Regions from separate parts of the Homo sapiens genome. Here regions 2 and 3 are each linked to region 1. Evidence: fine-mapped expression QTL. A gene starts in region 1. Each other region holds a variant in brackets. All regions are shown on one strand. Distances are between the middles of the regions.

Region 1 (8,186 bases):
CTACAGCTTGGGAGGGCAGGAGTCATGAGGTACAAGCACACATGGGAATTTCACTCACACATCCATATATACCAATGGACCAAACACGCTCAATTTCAGCTATATACAACCAGAAATATGTGCCCAACCACCAATATTCCAGGAGACAAAAACACTTCAACATCACAGAACAGCACCTGGATTACGCAGTGGTGGGTTTCTGGTCACCTTCTGCAAAGTGAAAGGAAAGAGAGGACTGTTTTCTGTCTGGGTCAGAATTTATAGTTTCAGAGGAGGGTAAGGGTGCTACCCTTTGCTGGCACTGTGTTTATGGCTACAGGGAACCAACTATTTTAATGTATAAGTAAGTCATGAACAATCACTGATCTGTACAATGAGAACCACAGCCAGTTCTCAGAGTCATCAAGGACACACAGATGAGATACATACAAATACATATACATCTGTACACCCAGGATTTTGAATGATGTGGAGATTGGGTATAAAGGTAGACCTAAAAACCTGGGCCTTAGCCAATGGCCATATGGAGAGCTGGTGATTCCTCCCACCTCTCCACAACACCAACCCCTTCCCTTCCAAACAACTTAACTTATTCACTGTCACCCAGAGTCAGCTTTCATGCCGCCAACCCCTGCTCATGCTGCTTAATCCACCTGGAATGCTCTCCAGCCACGAGTCCACCTTTACAAATCCTACCCATCCTTTGGAACTCAGCTCAACTCCTCTCTTCCTCTATAAGGTGTTTTGGAGTCAACCTAAGGTATCTCTCTCTCTTCTGAACTTCCAGAACAATTTCTATAATTACTTGACAAATAATCACCTAAGCTTTATAAGGCTTTTATCTTCTCTTTCTTTTCCTTTCTTTTTTTCTTTTCTCTCCTTCCTTCCCTTCCTTCCTCTTTATCTGTCTCTGTCTCTCTCTCTCTCTTTGTGTCTCTGTCTCTCTCTGTTTTCTTTCTTCTTTTTCTTCTAAGAGACAGGGTCGTGCTCTATTACACAGGCTGGAGTACAGTGGTGTGATCATAGCTCACGGCAGCTTTGAACTCCTGGGCTCAAGCAATCCTTCTGTCTCAGCCTCCTGATGTTGTTTTCTTGAACTATTCTTTAAATCAATAGAAAATTCCACCTTTCTCCAGGTCTTCATTGAGATGTCACCTCTTCGAGAGGTAAGCAGCACATCTTGTAGTTCTTTGGATACTCCTAGCTTATCTCCTAGAGTACCTTGCACACAGTAGAATTAAATTGCAGCATTCGGCCGGGCATGGTGGCTCACACCTATAATCCTAGTGCTTTGGGAGGCCAAGATGGGAGGATTGCTTGAGGCCAGGAATTCAAGAACAGTCTGCTCAACATAGCAACTCTAAGGGCCCATCTCTAAAAAATATAAATATAAATATAAATAAATTGCAGCATTCTCTTCTGTACACATAGGAGTTGTTAGGCTCACCTTAGTAATCTATTTTGAGATTCAAACTTCACACTTAAGAGACTTAATGCTTTAAAAAAAAAAGCAGAAATTCTAAGTGCCTTCCCTCAATTTACTTTTTAAAAACCACAAGAGTTTTAATTCTATTACAGAGGAGTAGTCCTACAAACTAATGTAGCCCTGTTAGACTCTATGCCTTCAATTTCAAATTCTGAAAATTCTGCAAAAGCTCTGGCTAAGCCCATGTATTTGCTGGAGGTGAAAGATGGAGGTTAAAATGAAAGGCTTCATATTCAACTGTTACTACATGGTCTTGTATACAGTATGTACATAATAAATGTACCAATGTCTGAAAAACTGAAATGATTATAACTGAGAGTGACAAAATTATAAAGGCATTTCTCAAAGCACACAACTTATTTCCTGTGGGGGAGAGGAGTAGAATCTCTTAATTTAAAACAACCTTAATCTATGAAATTGCTATGTAACTTACCCCTTTATCTATTTTATGTGCACTTGGGAAAACTTAAAACAGTTTTACTAATATGGATTTGCCAGGCACTAATCTTTGAAGTATGTATACACATATTATTAATAATTCATTTAACCCTCAGGACAACCCCAATCCTACAGACGGGAAGACTGAGGCACAGAGAGGTTAAGTAACTTGCTCAAAGATCACAGCAAGAATGCAGTGGAACTAGAATTTGAATCTCAACAGTCTGACTCTTAATCACTATGATAATGGGTATTGGTTATAGCTGATGTAGAGGTATATCATTTTGATTAATATTTGGGGTGATTTCTATAAAAGTTGTACATCCAAACCTTGATCAGAAATGTAACATCCTATCATTATGCTGGTATGTAATCAACCTGATTGACCCCTGTCAACTGGATTGACAGGGGTAGTTAATAATGAAATTAGGGTTAAGCACCCAAGCCTAGATTATGACTTTCACTTTATAAGCTTAAGGAATGATGTTTAGCTATAAACCTTAGAAGAAATGCAGCCAAAGCTTGCAGGGAAACATACACACGCACACCAAAACTCAGCTATTTTGAAATTCCACTTACTTTAATGTTTAAGTCAAACTACTTTAAAACTGTTTACATATTACTCTATCAAGGGTGAAATAATCGCATGTAAAGGGCTTTCTAAAACAAATCCACATCTTGGAAGCCCATTTTGGGGCGTTGAGTTGTGACTACGTTCTCAAGGATGTTAATAACACAAGAGCTCCATCCACTAACTCCTTGAAAAAAACCAAAACCATGAACGTCTTGTCAAATTCAGACAGTTTATCTTGGCACTGGCAAGTACAGCAGTCTCTTCGATGTCTGGAAACGTGTCTAATTACGTTTAGAGAGTAACTAAAAAAATAGCCAGTGTCCCGGAACAGACAGCTCAGGGATCACTCCATAGCATCCTGAATGACAGGATGGAACTACGCCAGGAGGAAAAAAAAAAGAAGGGCGAAGAAAGAAAGAAAAGAAGCAAGTGTAAAGCCGGGATGAGACGCCAGCCTCTCTCCAAAATAATCCTCCAGTCCTCCTAGGGCCTTCGGGGCCACCGCAACTCTCGTTCAAGTTATTTCCCTTCAGTTTCCATGAGGTCACCGGCCCGCCCACATCCCTCACCTGGCGCGGGGAAGCGCGCCCTCCCGCGCGGCACACCCTCTGCACCTAAACCCCGGACAGCGCCCAGGGCTCCCCTCTCAGGGAAGCGCGGCCCTTGAGCTCGACACGCCCCCCGCACCCCAAAGCGGCCGCACCCCAGGGGCGTCCGCTCTCGGGAAAGCGCAGCCGCGGAGCTTGGCAGACCCCCGGACACCGCAGCCCGGCCGCGCCTCCATCCCTGGAGCTTGGGCGCTCCCGACACCCCGGATCCGGCCGCGCCCCGAGGCGCCCCCTCTCGGGAAAGCGCAGCCTCGCGCCCCTGCGCGCGGCCGCTCCGCCCTCACCTGAGCCTGAGGTTGGCCATGAACTCGGGCATGGAGACGGTGTCCATCAGCACGAAGTCTGCCTTGCCGAATTCCAGGCTCTCCTGCTCCGCCATGGCGCCAGCGCGGGGGCTCAGGTGGGCGCGCTCGGGCCTCCGGGGCCGCTCCGTGGGCCCGCGATGAGCTCGGGAGGGGCCGGGGCGAGGCCGCGCCGCGAGGCTACGGGGAGGGGGCGCGCACGCCGCTCGGCGGGTCCGGGCCGGACAGAGGCCGCCTCGCTGCTCCTCGGCGCCTTCTCGGCCGGCGCGGCTCCGAACGGGACGCACCCGACAGTTTCCGCTCCTCCCGCCGCGGCTGCCGGGCGCTGTAGGGGCCGGGACACCGAGACGGAGACGGCAGCGGCTGGTCCCGCCTCCAGCCTGGGGCTCGTCCCGGCTCCGCCCCGCCCGGGCCTCCCGGCTCCGCCCCTCCCGGCCCACTGAGGAGCCCGCCCCAGCCGCGGCCCTGGCCGCCGCCTCTTCACCTGGGCGGCGCGCACGCGCGGGTGGGCGGCGGGGACGCGCGCTGGGCCGGGCGGCGGCAGCTGGGTGGCAGCGCCCCCTGGGGACAGGCGCTGGGATCTCAGGCGGCCAAGAGGATGGCCGCCTGCCGCCCACACTTGGTAGCTGCCAACAAAGTTAGAAAAGTAGTTCGTGGAGCTTTTCGCGAGGACAATTCATTATGATTCTGTCACCCTGCTCCAAAACCCACTCCCGCCTCTCTACTCACACCCTGCCCATTCTTGAAGTGGTGGTTCAAGCACAGACTGAGAGGTAATAATAATGGCTAACATTTTTGGGGCACCAAAAATGCCCAGAGCTGTTCTCAGCGCCTTAGAGAACTTTTAAGAAACTTGCCATACGACTAGGAAGTGGAGCAGCTGCGGTTTCACGCAGGTCATTTGACTTAGGAGCCGCAGCGTTCAACCACGTCTGACTACCTCCATTCTTCAGTGGCCCATTTTCTCTTCCACTCATCCGAGCATGTCATCAGACATTACCTTATATGATTATTAAGTTTTTAATATATCTTTGTATCATCTCTCCAGGATTATTGCGGATGTCTTGAGCATGGGACCATTCTTTTTGCATCCACCAAATAACTATTGTACTACTTTGCATATATAAATATGAAATCCATACTGGTTCAGTGGAATGAAGTGAGTTGTAAGTAGTCTCCAATTTATTGATACATTGGTTGAGCTTGGAAAATTCTTTTTGAACTCAATGTATTTTCCCAAAGAAAATATACTACAAATGACTTTCTTTCTTTTTTTTTTTTTTTTCTTTTTCTGGAGACAAATTCTCCCTCTGTCACCCAGGCTGGAGTGCAGTGGTGCAATCACAGCTCACTGCAACCTCAAACTCCTGGGCTCAAGCAATCCTCCAGCCTCAGCCTCCTGAGCAGCTGGGACTACAGGTGTATGACACCATGCCCAGCTATTTTTTTTAAATAAATGACTTTCTAAGGTATCTACATTTATTCAGTCCTGTGTTTCTGTTAGGACATCTTCTATTACAAAATCTACGAGGAAATCTAGAGGCCTCCAAGGACCTGGCTGGGCTTCAACTCTGGCTGAGTTTGAGATGAGTAAACCAGACTGAAGGACCTTGCCCAAGGCCTGCTTCAGCTGCCAGCCACCCACACTTGCTAAGAGAAAGGAAAGGAGCTTTGTCACCTCCTGAGGGACTGCCTCTGCCATCAGAAAACCACCCCAATCCCTGGCACCAGCAGAGCTGGGTTGCATCTGACTACCGTTAGCAGCTGTCCTTCAGAAGGAGGAGATCCACCTGTCTCGATATCAGTGTCCTCATTTGTGGAATAAAAGCTCTGGAATAAGGTAGGACTGTCCTATGGTTGGGTCATTTGTGGAGGTGTCGGTCAGTGGCTAAGTAGGTTATTGCATAGGGTATGGTTGTATTCCTAATGTTTGTATTGGCATGTTTTAACATAAGCAGAACTGAACTTCAAGAAGGAAAGAAAGAAATCTCAAACTGTATGCACTTTGGAGCATCCAGGGACCACACCCCAAAACCTTTTGGTAAATTATATATGTGTGTTCCCTGAGCTCTGTAGGTGTTAAAAATTAGGGCAAAATCCCAGGTACCAGGAAAAGAAACATCACGGCTTGCAGATGATGAGAGAGTTGCAGAAATTGTACAGTGGTTAGGAGCTATGGTGGGATACAATGTGGTTTCCAAATGGCCAAAGTAAGAGATCCTCATTTTAATCAACATCTTATATAGGAACCCAACATATAAAACACATATACAACATATGCAAAGGGTATTTTATTAATTTCTTGTATAAGTCCAAATTAGTATAAAATTAGGCATTGATGCTCTCATGATGAACCCAAATCTGCTCAATGGGGCTCACTATTAGCCTCAGGATTCCAGTTTACTTTTGTATGTTGTTTTCATTGTACTGTGTCAAGCAAATTCTTGTTTGTATAACTAAGCAGTAATTTGTTACCCATACAACTTTACATTCAGCATTTCTAGGCCAATGTGCAGTTACAACATTATTAATCAATGACACACTTGAGCAAAGTTCAGGTATATGCACAGCCGGCAGGAGAGACTGAATACTCTGGTCTGCATTCAGTCAAGGTAACCTAGAGCAGATTAGCTCATTATGAATGTTCTTTGTGATAAAATTTGAATAGAAACACATTTGGAGATGCATGTTTTTGTTACAGTTTAAAATATACAAAAAATAAAACAAATAAAAGTTTATATCCCCAATCATGAGACACACAGACACCATGAGCCTCCTGATATGGTCTCCTGAAAAAGACACATATCATTTACCTGCTAAAAATACGTAAATGGAATCTAATCATGAAGAAGCATCAAACAAACTCACATTAAGGGGCATCCTACAAAACAATTGACCTGTATTCTTCAAAAATATCAATGATGTGAAAGACAAAGAGGCTGAGGCACATCACTATTAAAGGCAATGGGTGATTCTGGACTGGATCTCCAACCAGAAAAATGTAAAGGACATTGTTGGGATAATTGGTGAAATTCAAATATAGACGCGATGTTAGATAGTAGGATAGTATCAATGCTAGTTTTTCTGAACTTGATCATTTTACTGGGATTCTGCAAGATAATGTCCTTGTTTCTAGCAGGTATCTGCTAAAGTATTTAGGAGTAAAATGATGTCTCGAACTGTTTGGCAAGAATAATAAAAATAATAAGATGAGGAGGTGGAAGGAGGGCGTGCATATATATTGGTAGACATATAAATGATTAAAGCAAATGATGCAAAATACTAACAAGTGGTAAAGTCATTAAAAATATATGGGACTTTTGAGGGGATTTTCTTTTGTACTATCCTCACAACTTTTCTGTAACTTTGCAATTAGTTTGAAATTTATTCATTTATTTTGAGACGGAGTCTTGCTCTGCCGCCCAGGCTGAAGTGCAGTGACACGATCTCGGCTCACTGCAACCTCCGCCTCCCGGGTTCAAGCGAGTCTCCTGCCTCAGCCTCCTGAGTAGCTGGGACTACAGGTGCATGCCACCATGCCCAGCTAATTTTTGTATTTTTAGTAGAAACGGGGTTTCACCATGTTGGTCAGGCTGGTCTCAAGCTCCTGACCTCATGATCTGCCCACCTCAGCCTCCCAAAGTGCTGGGATTAGAGGTGTGAGCCACCACACTCGGCCTGAAATTTAAACTTAAAAATTAAATAGTAATCTAAAACTGTGCTAAATAAAAATTTTTAATTTAAAAATATTAAATAACACTTAGAAATCAAAGTCACATCAGAATTTTGCAAACCTTCCAGAACTGAAGAACCAGCAGATATTTTTGAAAACCCTGGTCCAGGGTACCTCTTAGCTCTATTTGGCATAGATGTGCTAGGAGATTATAAACACTGAACAGGTAATTCTAAAAACAAAAATAATTAGATGTCAAATATACCCATATGCCCCTGAGAAGGTGCATCCTGTTCTCTGCCTGAAGTTCTCCCCGCCACCCCACCCCTCACTCCTATGACCTAGCTAACTTCCGCTCATCCCTCCGCTCTCAGTCTCAACATCACTTCCTCCAAGAAGGCTTCCATAATCTCCTGAGTCAGAATTGGCTGTTCCTCCTCTGTGCCTCCTGCAGCATCCTGGAAGTGCTGCCCCCATTACAGTACTAAATGCCCTTGAGCCTACTGTCTGTCTCTCTCACTCGTTTGTAAGGGCCATGAGGGCTGGAAGCTGTCTTTTCTGGTTTTTGATGTAAATGTAATTCTGGCACCTCCTAGCATAGTGCTAAGAGATGAAGTGCTTAATAAACTGTTGCTTGATAAATGAATATGGAATGGTCTGTGAACCTATGGGTCATAAAATGTGAGACTGTAAATCCACCCCCCTTGGTAGTTTTCTGCATTGCAAATTAGTCATTGTACAACATTAACCTCAGTCTCATCTCCTGCCCCGGAAGCAGATCTCAGGGCTGTGTTTATTTCTCCCCTGGGACCAGGCCTGCACACTGTGTGTTCACACTGAACAAAAGCTACTGTTCCAAAAACCCTTCTGTAGTTACCAGCCACTGCAGAGGGTCTACTCTTGATGATCCACGAAAATCAACCCTGAATTTTCCACCACAAATGTTTATTCCCATTCAACTTTCCCAGAATGTTTCTGGGCTGCCCTGCCCTCCCTCCCTTTACCAGAGGCTTTGCATCCAAGGAAGACAACTCTTTCAGCATGAGTCTGGCAAGACAGAAATAAGACAGCTAGGAAAAAAACAACAACAACAATAGTCACACAG
Region 2 (8,186 bases), 61 kb before region 1:
GCAAAAGGTTACAAAGGTCAGGGGTGATAGAGCCACAGTTCAAACCCAGCAGTCTGACAGCAGAGTAAATGCTCTTAACTCTTTATGTTGTGTTACCTACACTTAAGTTAGAGGAAGTCAGGATGAAACATGAGAGTAATAAGCCTTCCAAGTGAGGGAACTGGAGAGACAAGTAGAGTACCAGGTCAAGGGAAGGAGTACTGACCTTGAGATATAGCCTGTGGGGTTCTGGGTAGGACAACGGAGAGGACTGCAGAAGTTCCAGCAGACACTGGGCACCAACTTCACCTGCTGCACAGTTTTGCTTAGAAACAGCAGCATGTTATAACACATTCAGCTTCCTTGCCTTAACAAAGCACTAAGTCACTTACAAATAGGAAAATAATATTTATTGAGTACCTACAAAATGCCAAGCACTAGACTAGGTAGAGACTTTATATGTATAGGCCATTTAATTCTCACAATCACCTTAACCATAATGGCGACATTAACTTTTCATGAACAATTTTGCCAAGCAAATATAACTTATACACATGGAGTCATCCACACCCATCATCCAATCCATTGGCAAATCTTGTTAGTTCAATCTTCAACAACTATCCAGCATTCAATCATTTCTCCTATAAACGGTCTTCACTGATGATTTCCCAATATGTGAAAAGATACTCTGGCACTGACTTCAGTCTCTTCTTTATTATATCCTCAAATATCACTCTACAGACAAGTCTGAAAAAAGACTAGGTTCTTACACAACCTATTACTCATTCATCTAACAAATATTTTTTGTGCTAAGCAATACGCCAAGGGCTTAGATACAATGGTGATCAACATAACTATGGTCTGTGTTCCTCCAGACAGCCCAGTAGGGGATGCAGACAAGTAAAAGGAAAATGTAACAAAGGAGCTATTAGAGGAAATGCAGGGAGATATATTACAGTACAAATGAAAGGCAGTTAACCCAGACCTCAAGGACCGAGAAGGTGATCCCAGAAGTAACATCTAAGTTGAAAACTAAAGAATGGGTAGGAATTATTGAGGCGATGGGGTGGAGGAGGAGGAGTGGGAAAGAGTAGTGTGCCACATGGAGATCTCAGCAGGAACAGAGGCTGAGAGGCTTCAGAAAGAAAAAAGCATGTTTAAAGGATGGAAAGAAGTTCAGTAAGCCTGGAGCACAAGGCACAGAAAGGACAGTAACAGTAAAGGAAAGGAAAACTAGAGAAAAGAGAGGAGAATTAATTGCTGATGATGCAAGGGCCTTCCAAGTCATGTTAAGAAGTTCTGGCTACAGCATGGAAGTCTTAAGACTGGAGCTATGGAGACCAGTTAAGAGACAGCTGCGTCCATGGGATGCTTGATAGAAACCTACACTAGAGCATGGTGGTAGTCACACTCAAAAGATATTTAGGAGACTCAATTGACCTCATCTGGTGATTGATCAGATGGGAGTGGAGATGGTGAGGACAGACATGAATCAAGAATAACTAGATTTCTGCCATGGGCATTAGGTGGAAGGTTTAATACAAACTAGCTTTCACATGTTGGTAACTTTCTCGAGGCAGCAACACTTTTTAGAAAAGTGACCTGCCAGAGTTCAGGTCAGCCATCTAAAAAACACTTCTTGCCAGGAGTGGTGGCTCATGTCTGTAATCCCAGCACTCTGGGAGGCCGAGGTGGGCAGATCATGAGGTCAAGAGATCGAGACCATCCTGGTCAACATGGTAAAACCCTGTCTCCACTAAAATTACAAAAAATAGCTGGGTGTGGTGGTGTGCACCTGTAGTCCCAGCTACTCGGAAGGCTGAGGCAGGAGAATCACCTGAACCCGGGAGGCGGAGGTTGCAGTGAGCTGAGATCCCACAACTGCACTCCAGCCTGGCGACAGAGCAAGACTCCGTCTCAAGAAAACAAAAACAAAAACAAAAAACACTTCTGTGTTAACATTCTAAATTTATCCCTTCTTTTTTTCCTACTGCACTTATAAATAAGAGTAAATGCTCAATGAATTTGTAAGCACAGAAACCATATAAATGACCTTATAAAACGGTGTGAGAGGAAGAAGGATAATGAAGGGCCTCCTTAATCAGAGTAGCCATTTGTTGGCTGTTAAAAGAAGAGACATATAATTTGGAGTAATGAAAGCAAGAGAAAGAATTAGCAGACTGTTTTAAATGAAAACATGTCTCTTCTAAGCACGATGCATTACAAATAAGACAAATTAATCATTGTTGAAAATTTAAATATTCACACTGGAATTGCTGTATCATCTATTAGAAGTTGCCTAGAATAATGCTAATTGCAATTACAGATAAACTCCAAACTTTCAGTGGCTTTACACAAGAAGTTGATTTATTACCCATACATTAGTCCAATACAAACGTTTCTGTGGGGAGGGAGTAGGCCTTTGCTCCATGCAACTGTTCAGTGACATGTCCGACAAAAACGCTTCCATCTTCAACACATGACTTCAAGTTACGCTGCGCATCAACAGCCAGCCAACAAAAGTGGCAGAGAATGGAGAATCACTTGCGGGAGGCTTTTATGAGTTAGACCTAGAAGTGTCTAGACCTCAGAAATTCCACCAATGAGTACTCTGTCACATGACACGTAACTGCAAGGGAGGATGTGCCTCCAAAGAACAGGAAACACATTTTGCTGAATAATTAGCAGTCTGTTATGGATGGTAAAATACTGAAGACAAGATATATGACTTACTCACCTTTGCAGAGCTTAACAATATCTTGAAGAAAATAGGCGCTCAAGGCTCAAATATAATTCTGTTGAAAAAATACTTAATGAAAAAATTATCTCATAAGAGATCCATTTTGCTACATAAACTACTGCTAAAATACATAAACTGTAGGAAAAAAGATTTTCCAGCTCTTGACTTATAGAAGTTGCCCATTTCAACCTGGATTTTCCTTATTTACCAGGAAGACACCAAAAATATTGTGGTAGAAGAAATCATTCCAAACTTGTGGCTCAAGAATTGTGAGAACTATCTCTAAAGTATGGAAAAATATCAATGATAATGACTTAAATATTTTAAATTTTCATGTTAGTTCTTATTCTCTTAACTTTTTTAAAAGCATAGTTATTATGCTTAAGTCCAATCCTGGTCAGGCAGCCCTCTTCCCTCTCGTAGATTTGCCAATGAGAACAGGAGGCCTAAAGAGCACACGCTTTGGCAAAAGAAACAAACAAGAAAGCATGCTGGCTCTGAATTCCCTTGGCCTCAAAGTGACACATCACTCTGTGCAGAGTTCATTGGCCAATACCACAGGTTAGTCCTGTGGTCCCCACCTAACTGCAAGCTAGGTAGGAAATGTTGAGAAGGACAAGGTAAGTGATTACCGTCTCTGCCACACCTGTATAGACCACAAGCCCCAGTTTCTAGGTACATTTTCCTATGTAAATTTCGGGGTTGTATTCTCTCATACAAATTAGTTTCTTGTAAGTTTGTTTACTAGTATCAATAACTGAGAATCAAGAGGATAAAATTAAACTTCTGGGCTTATAAACAAATCCTTTATCCATGGTAACCTAGTAGCAACTAACTGATCTGAAAACCAGTGGGAAGTAGCCAGTTGATTCTTCTCAATATCTCTCAGCTACAATATCCTAAACAAGGAATCCATTCATCTATCAGTCAATAAATATTTATTGAGAATGTCTGTGGGTCTAGTGTGATGTTTAACACTGCATTAAGCGTCTGGGAGTGAAAAGGGCACATTTGGTTCCTGCCCTGATCAAACTTAGAGTCAAGTGAGGAACACAGTTTTAAAAAATTATCAACAATCATATTATTACAATCCAGACAAACAAGAGATATAGGAAGAGGTCACAGTGCTAACACTGTATTAAACATGAGACCTGACCAGGTTAGGAAAGGCTTCACTGAGACAAACGCAGGGCCCAGAAGGATACATAAGGGTTAGGCAGCTAAAGAGAGAAGGTTAATGTCCTAGACCAAGGGAAAGGTTGGAAACTTAGTCCAATGTTATTTACTTTTCGTCTTAAACTTTGAAATCATTTTAATAATTATTTTGGTTTCTCTCCACCTGATTGCTGTAGTACTATTAAAACTGAATTTTAAATAATTCTGTTTGATTCTAAACAGTCAAGTTTGCAATAGATTGCCATGTTTTAACAATATCTTCAAATTCTAGGCAAGGGAAAAAACATTTGCATATAATTTTTCTCTAAACATATTTATACTATGTATTTACAATTAGTAAATCCTGAGTTACTTCATTGTTTTTATATTAAGTGGTCTAAATCTAATAAATGGATGCACTCACCTCAACTGCAGATATTATGAAAAATTCCTGGATGTAGCATAAGTATGAGTTTAAAATTCAACATCAAAACCTTAATCCATTTTCATCACACACACAGGATTTAGTCTTTCTTCCAATATAATACAGTCCCTTTTTGAATTTTTTTAAATAATAAAAAAATTAGTGTTTTTAACTAAAGAAAAAGATGACAAGCGGTAAGAAATGCCACAGAATAAAAAGTTTTTGGTGAGGAAAAATTATGTAACTTAGGCAAGTAACTACTTGTACCTCAAATTTCTATTTAATGAGGTACTAGATGTATTGCTATAAATAAAATAAAAATAGTAATTATCTGCTAGCTACTTCACAGTGATTTTTAAATTTTTTTGTAGATACAGGGTCATGATATGTTGCCCAGGTTGGTCTTGAACTCCTGGCCTCAAGTGATTCTCCCACCTCGGCCTCTCAAAGTGTTAGGATTATAGGCATGAGCCACCATGCCTGGCTAACAGTAATGTTACAAGAATACATTAGCAATCTACAAATTTTATGCATTTCTAAAAAGATATGAAGACTGAAGACTGAAGACTGAAGCTTCTTTATGTTGCTGAGTAACAGGAAAACAACCACCAGATTATTTAATGGTTTAGCAACAAAAAACTTGGAACAAGAACATATTTGTACCTCTCTTAATTACAGTAATAAAATGCATATACA[T/C]TCTATGCCTTTTGAAGGTAATATTTTACACTCATAAAATGACTGCAGTTTAAAAACTGGTTTTGTCAGCTAAACACAGGAGTTACCATTTTCAAGGAAAGTAATCCTTCCCAGCTATAAAAGCCTATACATTTATGACTTGTTTTCAGTTCAAAAACTCAAAATTAACCAAAATAAAAGGATCCAGTAGAGGTTGATGTTCCTCTTTCTTTGCTTTTTCTCTAAACTGTTTTCAAGTAGTATAGTAATAGCCAACACTCACTGAGCGTTACCATGCCAGGCACTGAGCTAAGTGGTTTACGTGCATTATCACATTTAATCTTCACAACAACCCTATATGGTATGCACTTTTAAAGAAATATCTTACTTTCCAGATAAAGAAATGGAGACTTTAAGAGGTAGTAGGGGCCGGGCGCGGTGGCTCACGCCTGTAATCCCAGCACTTTGGGAGGCCGAGGCGGGCGGATCACGAGGTCAGGAGATCGAGACCATCCCGGCTAAAACGGTGAAACCCCGTCTCTACTAAAAATACAAAAAATTAGCCGGGCGTAGTGGCGGGCGCCTGTAGTCCCAGCTACTTGGGAGGCTGAGGCAGGAGAATGGCGTGAACCCGGGAGGCGGAGCTTGCAGTGAGCCGAGATCCCGCCACTGCACTCCAGCCTGGGCGACAGAGCGAGACTCCGTCTCAAAAAAAAAAAAAAAAAAAAGAGGTAGTAGGTTCTTGCCCTACAAGTATTGTGAAAGAGTTGAGATTCACCTAAGCAGTCTACTTCTAGAGCCAGTGCTTTTAACCACACCTCTATCCTGCAAATAGTCTGTAAACAAGTCTTAGTGATGCTTCTGTTCAAACTGTGGATCGCTGCTGCCCCTGCAGTCTCTGACCATTCTTCCCAGCAATGCTGAGCTGTGGTCCCATGTGAAGGCCTCATTATGGAAGGAGGGTTGGCTAAGTATCCAATAGTAGCTCCAGCCCAGTGGGAAGGTACCACCACTTGAGATGACACTGCAACGGAGGCAGATGCTCGATGGACACATTCAAGACCCATTCGGCTCAAGGATCAAAAAAATGGGGCTTGCAAGTTCCCATTCTTCTTTTCTAGAAGAGCTGCTGAGAGAGAGACCAATGGGGGAAATAAAGTGAAAGCCTCACTCTTCTCTAGCCTAAGTTTTAGAGTCCAGTGAAGCATTGCAGCATAGGCTTTGTAGTCAGAAAACCCTGAGATCAAATCCTGGTTCTACCACTTGCTATAGCGATCTTGGGCAAGGGGTCAGATCTCTCTAAGCCTGTTTCCTCATCTGTAAGGAAGGGTATTATATCACATAAGGTTACTGTGAGGACTAAATTAGACTAAGTATGCAATAGGATACCAGGGTCCAGTTTTCTTTGGATGTAATGGGCCTGGAAAATTCCTTAAAATCCTTTTCACCTACAAAATCTTATGAAGTTCTGCCTCATTTTCTGCTTAAAAACTTTAAAAAATTAATAGAAATAAAAGAGAATTCTACTAGAGAGATAGGTTGACGTTACTTCTTCCTTGCTTTTTCCTTAAAGTGGAATGTTAAAAACTAGGATATGCCTGGAAAGTGTTCTATCTACAAAAAAGGAAGTTAGCAGCCGCTGAAAAGTAACTACAGATGGCTATTCACTTTACTCTGAAAGCATTTGCTGTTGATATAATCACACCACAGGAAAACATCATAATGTTGGCTGAAAGAAATCTGAAATGACACAGCAATAATGCTTCATCATGTAGAAGTTGGTTTCAAGTTTTTTTTTTTTTTTCGGTCTGGATAGTGTGATTGCAAGAAGGGAGGCTATGCTAGCTTGGTTATAAGCAGGGAAGTTGGCTGTGAGGAGATAAACAGAGATCTCACAGGAATTCTGGGGTAGAAATCACTGGACCGGAACTGAAGGGCTATCTCCCAGCTTCTGCTTCTGCCTTTTCATTCAGTCCATTCCCCTCCGTTTACTCAACAGTTCCCTCTGCTTTGGTGGCAGTTTCTGCTCCTTCTCAAGGCTGACTTGCACATGGCTCTGACTTGCTGTGGCCTCCTCTCCATCATTCTCTGCATCAGGTGCTTTCAACCTTGATTTTATTGTTTATATATACTTATGAACTTTTCTGCAGGGAATGTCCATACTTTCATCAGATGCTTCAGGAAAGCAATGACCCCAAAAAGGAATAAAAACCACTGTTCTATCTCATGACACTCTACCTTTAGTTTCTACTAGTAACTCTTTTAGTTATTCAGTTTCTTAATTCCAAATTCCTACCAGAATAATAATAATGGCTACCATTTATGAAGCTTTGAGTATGAGCCAGATACTGTTCTAAGGACTTAACTATTTTTAATTCTCAAAACCACATTATATAGGATCTAATATTACAGAGAAGGAAACTGAGGCATAGTGAACTTTGGGTAACCTGCTTAAGGTTACACAACTAGCAAGTGGCTAAGTCGGAATTTCAATCTAGACAACATGCATAGTACTTAAAACTGACTGAGTTAAACTTTGCAAATCAAGCCACAGGTTGTTGGTAAGCCCACAGGTTGGTCATCTTTGGATTATGTCTCATTCCAGATGTGGCAAGAGGGAGAGACGGGAGACAGGAATCAAGTGGTTCAAAACATGGTCACTGTTCAGTAAGGCCATAGAAGGGTAGTTTCTCTTTTAAAAAGTGAGAACAAGGATGCACAGAAATGGGAACTCTTGCACACTGTTGGTGGGAATGTAAACTGGTACAGCCATTATGGAAAACAGTATGTAGGTTCCTCAAAAAATTAAAAATAGAGCTACCATATGACCCAGCAATCCCACTTCTGGGTATATGTTCAAAGGAAAGAAAATCACCATCTTGAAGACAGATCTTCACCCCATGTTCACTGCAGCATATTCACATTAGTCTCAAGATACGAAAGAATCAAAGTGTCTGTTGACAAATGGATGGATAAAGAAAATGTGATATACACACATACACAGAAAATGGAATACTATTCAGTTTTAAAAAGCAAATCCTGCCATTTGTGACATGAATGATTAATGAACCTGGAGGATATTATGCTAAGTGAAATAAGCCAGACACAGAAAGACAAATACTACATGATTTCACTTACAATATGGAATCTAAAAAGTTGAACTCAAGGAAAAAGAAAGAATGGTTGTTATGAGGTCATAACCTCATACAATTA
Region 3 (8,186 bases), 450 kb before region 1:
AATAGTAACCAAAGGACATTGGGAGTAGCAATTGAATACCAGACAAAATAGGATGTGAAAAAAAATTAAGGGAGCATTTTATTTTGATAAAAGGAAGAATCTACCTAAAATAAATTAGCAATCATAGAAATAGTCTCACACTATTAGTATTAAGGAAACATAAAACAACAAGATACTATTGCACTTTTTTTTTTTTTTTAGCTACTTTGTTAACTGAAACTATTGCCCTTTAGATTGCCCAAAATGTCAAGTACGGGCAAAGATGTGGAGAAAATGATAAGCTCTCACAACTCTTGAGATAGGGATAGGGTATATTGATATAGAGTCATTTGGAAGAGCAATTTGGCAGTATCTAATAAAATGAAAATGAATGCCTGGGTGCAGTGGCTTACGCTTGTAATCCCAGCACTTTGGGAGGCCGAGGCAGGCAGATCACTTGAGGTCAGGAGTTTGAAACCAGCCTGGCCAACATGGTGAAATATTGTCTCTACTAAAAACACAAAAATTAGCCAGGTGTGGTGGCATGTGCCTGAAATCCCAGCTACTCAGGAGGCTGAGGCAGGAGAATCGCTTGAACCCAGGAGGCAGAGGTTGCAGTGAGCTGAGATCGCACCACTGCACTCCAACCTGGGTGACAGAGCGAGACTCTGTCTCAAAAAATAAAAAAGAAAACAAATGTGTTTTTATAATTAAATGCTTATATTTCTGGGTATACTGAGAAACTTTTAGATGCATACAAGAATGATCATGGTAGCATTGTTTGGAAGTGCAAAAAATCAAAGAGTAATAATCTCAGTGTCCGTTAATAGAATGGATAAATAAATGCGGACTAATCATACAGTGGTATATACACAGTTAATAGGGATGAATTAACTCTATATGCAGTTCACTCAACAATACAGAATGAAAAAAAGCAAGATGCAGTACAATATATTTGGTATGGTACCATTGTGTAAAGAAAAAAGCATTATTCACACATAGCAATATTATATATCATTGCTGATAATAAATATCTATCTGTCTATATATCTCTAAATACCAAAAAAGCTAGATGGAAAAGGTTTTGCTCTGCATTGGAGGGATGGGAGTGGGAATGGTGTTTAAAGGGAATATTAGCTTTCTTTATAATATTTTGTTTTTTAAAAAAATCAAATTTGGCTGAGCATAATGGCTCATGCCTGAAATCTCAGCACTTTGGGAGGCTGAGGCAGGCGGATCACTTGAGGTCAGGAATTTGAGACCAACCTGGCCAACACGGTGAAACACCATCTGGCATGCGCCTCTAGTCCCAGCTACTTGGGAGGCTGAGGTAGGGGAATCGCTGGAACCAGGGAGGTGGAGGTTGCAGTGAGCCGAGATCATGCCACTGCACTCCAGCCTGGGTGACAGAGCAAGACTCTCTCTCAAAAAAAAAAAAAAAATGACATTTATAATTGTTAATTCTGAATGATGGGAATGTAGGTGTTTATTTTATAATTCCTACTACTTTTTTTTTTTTTTTTTTTTGAGACAGAGTCTTGCTCTGTTGCCAAGGCTGGAGTGCAGTGGCACGATAATTCATTGCAGCCTTGAACTCCTGGGCTCAAGTAATCGTCCCACCTTGACCTCTCAAGTAGTTGGGACTACAGGCATAGCCACCATGCCTGGCTAATTTTTTTAAAAATTTTCCTTTTTTTAAAATTTTTTTTAAAAATTTTTTATTTTTTGTAGAAATGGAATCTTGCTATGTTGCTCAGGTTGGTCTTGAACTCTTGGCCTCCCCAAATGCTGGGATTACAGGTGACAGCCACTTTGCCCCACCTAATTCCAACTACTTCTTTCCCTTTAATGTTTTTTCTTGGAAATTGACAACTAAAAAAAAAAAAAAGGAAATTAAAGTAAAATGGAAGAAATGGTTAAACATTAGTAAATATTTTTCATCTAAGAGCTATTATTTCTCAGTCTATCTCTTCAAAGTTAAGAAAAAAGATATGAAAATCACTAAGTAGTAGAATCATTATATGTTTTAGCTACATGTTTTATTATTGGACACTTTTGTTAACATCTTACTATGGAAAGATGAAGAAATTGAAGTTAACACTCAGCTTCCTATCTTCTCTCCTCATCCCATTGCTTTTGGTAGTTATATTATCTGTTGAGGTTTATAGCATTTACATTAGGTCCTGTGTAGTCTTAGTTCTATATTCAGGTGGAATCACTGCTCACCACCAGAAGTACTTTCCCATTACTGATTTATTTGTATTGATTAATTATTAAATTAGATTTTGTTTCTTTCTTTTTTTTTTTTTTTTTTTAGAAAAGCTCTTTGTCTTAAATTCCTTGGATTTTTTTCATGTTGAGACTATCTCTTTTTCTTATATTTGAACAACATCTTGACTGGGTATCATTTTCTTGGGCCACATTTTGTCTCTGAAATTTGTGGCATGTTTCATGTTTTTCTGGCATTGAACCTTGCCTCAGAGAGGTCTGAGATAAGTCCAATTCCCAACTCTGCTTCACCCCTTTTAGGCAACTTGCTTTATTGTCTGGTTGGTTGTGTTCAAGGAATTCTTTCTTTAACTTTAATGTTTAGTGACTTAACTGGGATAGAGATCAGTAGCTACCATGCTGTGTCAGTTTTTTTTTTTTTCTTGGAACATGGTGTGTTATTTCCATCTGTAACTAATTTCCTTATTTATTAAAGAGAAATTTGAAAGATTATTTCTTTGAATAATTTTCTCATTTTCCTGTTTTATTCATAAAGTCCTTTACTTCAGGGACATTAGTTAACTTTATAACAGATGCCATGTTCTTCATACCTATTGTCTTCTCTCTTATTCCTTTGTTTTCATCGTCTCCTTTCTCAGCTTTCATCATCTTTTATCTTTTTCTTTCTTTTTTTTTTTTTTGGGACGGAGTCTTGCTCTGTTACCAGGCTGGAGTGCAGTGGTGCGATCTCGGCTCACTGCAACCTCCGCCTCCTGGGTTCAAGTGATTCTCCTGCCTCAGCCTCCCCGAGTAGCTGGGACTACAGGCGCATGCCACCACGCCCGGCTAATTTATTGTATTTTTAGTAGAGATGGGGGTTTCACCATATTAGCCAGGATGGCCTCAATCTCCTGACCTCGTGATCCGTCCACCTTGGCCTCCCAAAGTGCTGGGATTACAGGCATGAGCCACCGTGCCCAGCCCTCATCATCTTTATTTTTAACCTTTGTGATATGTTCATGTGTTTCCTTAAGTTGTCTTATTTATTAGTTTTTTAATGATGCTGTTTTGATCCTGTCTGTTTCCTTGTCTCTTCAGTCTTCCTCTTCATCTCAAGTTGTCTTATCGTATTGTCTTTGGGCCTTTTTTAAAAAGAGAATTCATGGCCAGGCGCAGTGGCTCATGCCTGTAATCCCAGCACTTTGGGAGGCCGAGGTGGGTAGATCACCTGAGGTCAGGAGTTCGAGACCAGCCTGGCAAACCTGGTGAAACTCCATCTCTACTAAAAAGACAAAAATTAGCTGGGCGTGGCAGTGGGCACCTGTAATCCCAGCTACTCGGGAGGCTGAGGCAGGAGAATAACTTGAACCCTGGAGGCAGATGTTGCAGTGAGCTGAGATCATGCCATTGCACTCCAGCCTGGGTGACAGAGCGAGACTCCATCTCAAAAAAAAAAAAAGAAAGATAATCGATTCTATTATTAGACTGTTGTATAAAACAAATCGTTTGTGGTAATTTCCTTTCATTTCTTGAGTTATGCTATCTTCCAGAACGAGGTTAGTTATTGAAGGTTTGGAAAGGTCTTTATTTTCCCTCA[T/C]GCCTGACTGGTAGAGGATCAAATTCTAAGCTGAAAACAGAGTTTTATTTATTTTTATTTATTTATTTTTTTGAGACAGGGTCTCACTCTGTAGATCCTGTACAGAGGCTGTAGTGTAGTGGCACAGTCACGGCTCACTGCAGCCTTGACCTCCTGGGCTCAAGTGATCCTCCCACCTCACTCTCCTGAGTAGCTGGGACTACAGGCGCAAGCCACCATTCCCAGCTAATTTTTGTATTTTTTGTAGAGACAGGTTTTCGCCATGTTGCCTAGGTTGGTCTAGGACTGCTGGGCTCAAGCGATCTGCTTGCCTTGGCCTCCTAAAGTGCTGAGACTGCAGGCATGAGCCGCTGCACCCGGCCACTGAAAACAATAGTTTAATTTTTATTATATTTATAGATATTTTTCAGCAACCATACTTTTTATTTCCAAGATCTCTTTCTTGTTCTCTGCTTGTTCCTTTTCTATAGCAGACTATATTTTGTTAAACTGATTAAATATATTCCTAAAAACTTTCTGAGTATACTTTCTGAAATTTGGAATTTCAAAATAGTTCCTTTCCATTAAATTCTGTTTGTTTACTTTGGTTCTGCTCTGTTTGCTTTGCTGTTTCATCAAATGTCTGGGAGTTCTTGGCTGTCCATTCCTATTTAAGAATATAGGCATGTAGTATGGACCATCTATACTGTCTTGTAGGTAATCTGTTTCTCTAGTATAGGCTCACTCCAGGATGGGTAAGCTGGCTTAGGTTTCTTTCTACAAGGGTGGTATATGTCAAGTGGTAGGCACAGAATGCACAGAGAAGGAGCAGTCTGGGAGGTTAGGTCCTCTGAAATTCCAAGATGAGACAGGTTCCCACTGTTAGGGCCAGCACTCACTCTAGAAGACCTACTGTATCCAGGCAGATCATTATTTTCTGAGACAGAGTCTTGCTCTGTTGCCCAGGCTGGAGTGCAATGGCACAATCTCGGCTCACTAAAACCTCCACCGCCTGGGTTCAAGCAATTCTCCTGTCTCAGCCTCCTGAGTAGCTGGGACTACAGGCGCATGCCACAAAGCCCAGCTAATTTTTGTATTTTTAATAGAGATGGGGTTTCACCATATTGGTCAGGCTGGTTTCGAACTCCTGACCTCAGGTGATCCACCTGCCTCGGCCTCCCAAAGTGTTGGGATTACAGACTTGAGCCACCGCCCTCAGCCAGATCATTCTTTTTAATCTTTGCTTATCTGATGTGCAAAACAGTCAGAAGCTTTTATGATTAAGAAAGAATAAAATTAAATGGACTAACCATTTTTGAGAAACTAAAAAATGAACAACAAAATAAATGAAAGGAAAATAAAAATAAGTAAAGGCTGGGCGCGGTGGCTCACACCTGTAATCCCAGCACTTTGGGAGGCCAAGGCAGGTGGATCACGAGGTCAGGAGATCGAGACCATCCTGGCTAACAATGGTGAAACCCCATCTCTATTAAAAAATACAAAAAATTAGCCAGGCATGGTGGCGGGTGCCTGTAGTCCCAGCTACTCGGGAGGCTGAGGCAGGATAATGGCGTGAACCCAGGAAAAAAAAAAAGAGAAAGAAGTGAAGATCAGCTGGGTGTGGTGGCTCGTGCTTCCACTTTGGGAGGCTGAGGTGAGAGGATTGCTTGAGCTCAGGACTTTGAGGCCAGCTTGGGCAACACTGGGAGAAACAGCCTCTATAACAAAAAATAAATCAAAAAAATTAGCTGAGTGTGATGGTGCATACCTGCAGTCACAGCTACTTGGGAGGCTGAGGTGGGAGGATCGCTTGAGCCTGGGAGTTGGAAGTTGCAGTGAGCCAAGAACGCACCACCACACACTGCATTCCAGCTTGTGTGACAGACCAGGACCCTGTCTTGGAAAAAAAAAAACAACAGTAAAGATTAAAGCAGAAATTAGTGAATAAAACCCAGAAAACAATCAAATTAATGACAAATCTAAGAACTTGTCTTTTAAAATAGCATTGAAATAGAAAAATCTCTATTAAGATAAATATAAAGAAGCAAATTAAATACAAAGAAGCATTAAATATATTGCATTAGTAATGAGACAAATGAATGTGATCAGATTTCATGGAGGTTTAAAACATTCAAGATAATCTTTTAAATTTAATTTTTTAATTATTATTAAATTTTTTTTTTATAGAGATGAGGTCTGGCTGGGTGTGGCAGCTCACGCCTGTAATCCCAGCACTTTGGGAGGCCGAGGCGGGTGGATCACCCGAGGTTGGGAGTTTGACACTAGCCTGGCCAATGTGGTAAAACCCTGTCTCTACTAAAAATACAGAATTAGCTGGGTGTGATGGCACACACCTGTAGTCCCAGCTACTCAGGAGGCTGAGACAGGAGAATCGCTTGAGCTTGGGAGGTGGGGATTGCAGTGAGCCGAGATCATGCCACTGCACTACAGCCTGGGTGACGAGTGAGACTCTGTCATAAAATAAAATAAAATAATAAAATAAAATAAAATAAAATAAAAAATATAAGGTTTTGCTGTGTTTCCCAGGCTGGTCTTGAACTCCTGGGCTCAAGAGATGCTCCCACTTAGGCCTCCTAAAGTGCTGGGATTACAGGTGTGAGCCACCATGCCCAGCCTCAAGAGAATCTTGTGCTAATAATTCTGAAACTCATAATGAAATAAATATTTTAGGAAGGTGTATATTACCAAAATTTAGTCAAGAAGTAGGAAAAGTAACTGGACGCAGTGGCTTATGCCTGTAATCCAGCACTTTGGGAGGCTGAGGCAGGAGAATCACTTGAGGCTAGGAGTTTGAGACCAGCCTGGGCAACATAGTGAGATCCACATCTAAAAAAAAAAAAAAAAAAAAAAAAGAAGAAGAAGAAGAAGAAGAAGAAGTAAAAAAGGTGATAGGCGGGATGCAGTGGCTTATTCCTATAATCCCAGCACTTTGGTTTGGGAGGCTGAGGTGGGCAGATCATGAGATCAGGAGTTCGAGACCAGCCTGGCCAACATGATGAAAACCTGTCTCTACTAAAAATACAAAAATTAGCTGAGCGTGGTGGTACGCGCCTGTAATCCCAGCTGCTCAGGAGGCTGAGGCAGGAGAATCGCTTGAACCTGGGAGGTGGAGGTTGCAGTGAGCAAAGATCGCGCCACTGCACTCCAGCCTGGGCAACAAGAGCAAAACTCCATCTCAAAAAATAAATAAATAAATAAATAAATAAATAAATAAATAAATGTGATAAAAGTTGGTAGAAAAGTGAGAAATTATCCTAAGACTCTCCCTACTCCAACTAGAATTGGGCTGGTTCTATAGAGTTTTATGGGCAAGCTCTAATTGTGATACTTTACTTCCTATCTGAATATTGCCACACCTCTAACAAAACATCCATAGTATTTACTTCTTTCTATTCAGTTCTCTGGTAAATTAGATAAGAAAAGGCAGATGTTGTAAACTTGTACTATCTATCTACCTACTCAACAGATGCTAATAGGTGTCAAGCCTTGCCCCAAGAGCTGGTAACAAAGATGAACGAAAGATCCACAACTTAAAAATATTAAGATATATTTATATCATTTATATCAAAGATATATTTATACCATTTCATTTGGGGGCAGCAAGTTCCTCTTTTATTATTATATCCCTGCTGGTGAGAAATAACCCCATTTGTATCTTATGGTGAATATGATCTCTGATTATGTTAAATACTTAGAAGGCCCGGCATGACGGCTCATGCCTGTAATTCCAGAACTTTGGGAGGCCAGGGCGGGCAGATAACCTGAGGTCAGGAGTTCAAAACCACCTGGCCAACATGGCGAAAATCCATCTCTACAAAAAATATGAAAATTAGCCAGGCGTAGTGGCACATGCCTATAATCCCAGCTACTCGTGAAGCTGAGGCAGGAGAATCCCTTGAACCCGGGAGGCAGAGGATGCAGTGAGCTGAGATCATGCCACTTGCACTCCAGCCTGGGTGATAGAGCGAGACTTCATCTAAAAAAAAAATAAAAAATTGTGCACCTGTAGTCCCAGCTACTCAGGAGGCTGAGGCAGGAGAATCGCTTGAACCCGGGAGGCAGAAGTTGCAGTGAGCTGAGATCGCGCCACTGCACTCCAGCCTGAGCAATGGAGCAAGACTCCATCTCCAAAAAAATAAATAAATGAATAAATAAAAATAACATAAAAAATAAATAAAAATTAAGAAACCACAACAAATACTCAGAGATAGAGGATGTTGGTGGGCTTAAGAGGAGGAAAAATCTAGTACTAGGAATGTTGTGGAAGTGGTGGCTATTTTTTGATTTTTTATTTTTATTTACATATACTTTTTGAGACAGAATATCTCTCTGTTGCCCAGGCTGGTGTGCAATGGCACGATCTCGACTCACCGCAACCTCTGCCTCCCAGGTTCAAGCGATT

What was found. PIP is the estimated chance that this variant, and not a neighbour inherited with it, causes the effect.
Region 2: its variant is fine-mapped to the expression of MYO1D in blood mononuclear cells (TOPMed, PIP 0.98).
Region 3: its variant is fine-mapped to the expression of MYO1D in whole blood (INTERVAL, PIP 0.97).

What each region holds. Positions count from the first base shown.
Region 1 is chr17:32,873,388-32,881,573 of GRCh38, forward strand. MYO1D (myosin ID) reads right to left here and starts at 3,737. Exons shown (of 22, transcript NM_015194.3): 1 at 3,391-3,737. The coding sequence starts at 3,485. MYO1D-DT (MYO1D divergent transcript) reads left to right here and starts at 3,468. Exons shown (of 4, transcript NR_184086.1): 1 at 3,468-3,506; 2 at 4,457-4,574; 3 at 4,913-5,248. RefSeq lists silencers at 3,073-4,062, 3,269-3,456.
Region 2 is chr17:32,812,445-32,820,630 of GRCh38, forward strand. The region is part of intron 1 of MYO1D (myosin ID); the gene reads right to left. Among named protein-coding and RNA genes, the nearest start is that of MYO1D-DT, 60 kb to the right of the region's middle. The variant T/C (reference allele first, on the strand shown) is at 4,995.
Region 3 is chr17:32,418,654-32,426,839 of GRCh38, forward strand. No RefSeq gene overlaps it. Among named protein-coding and RNA genes, the nearest start is that of PSMD11, 22 kb to the right of the region's middle. The variant T/C (reference allele first, on the strand shown) is at 3,785.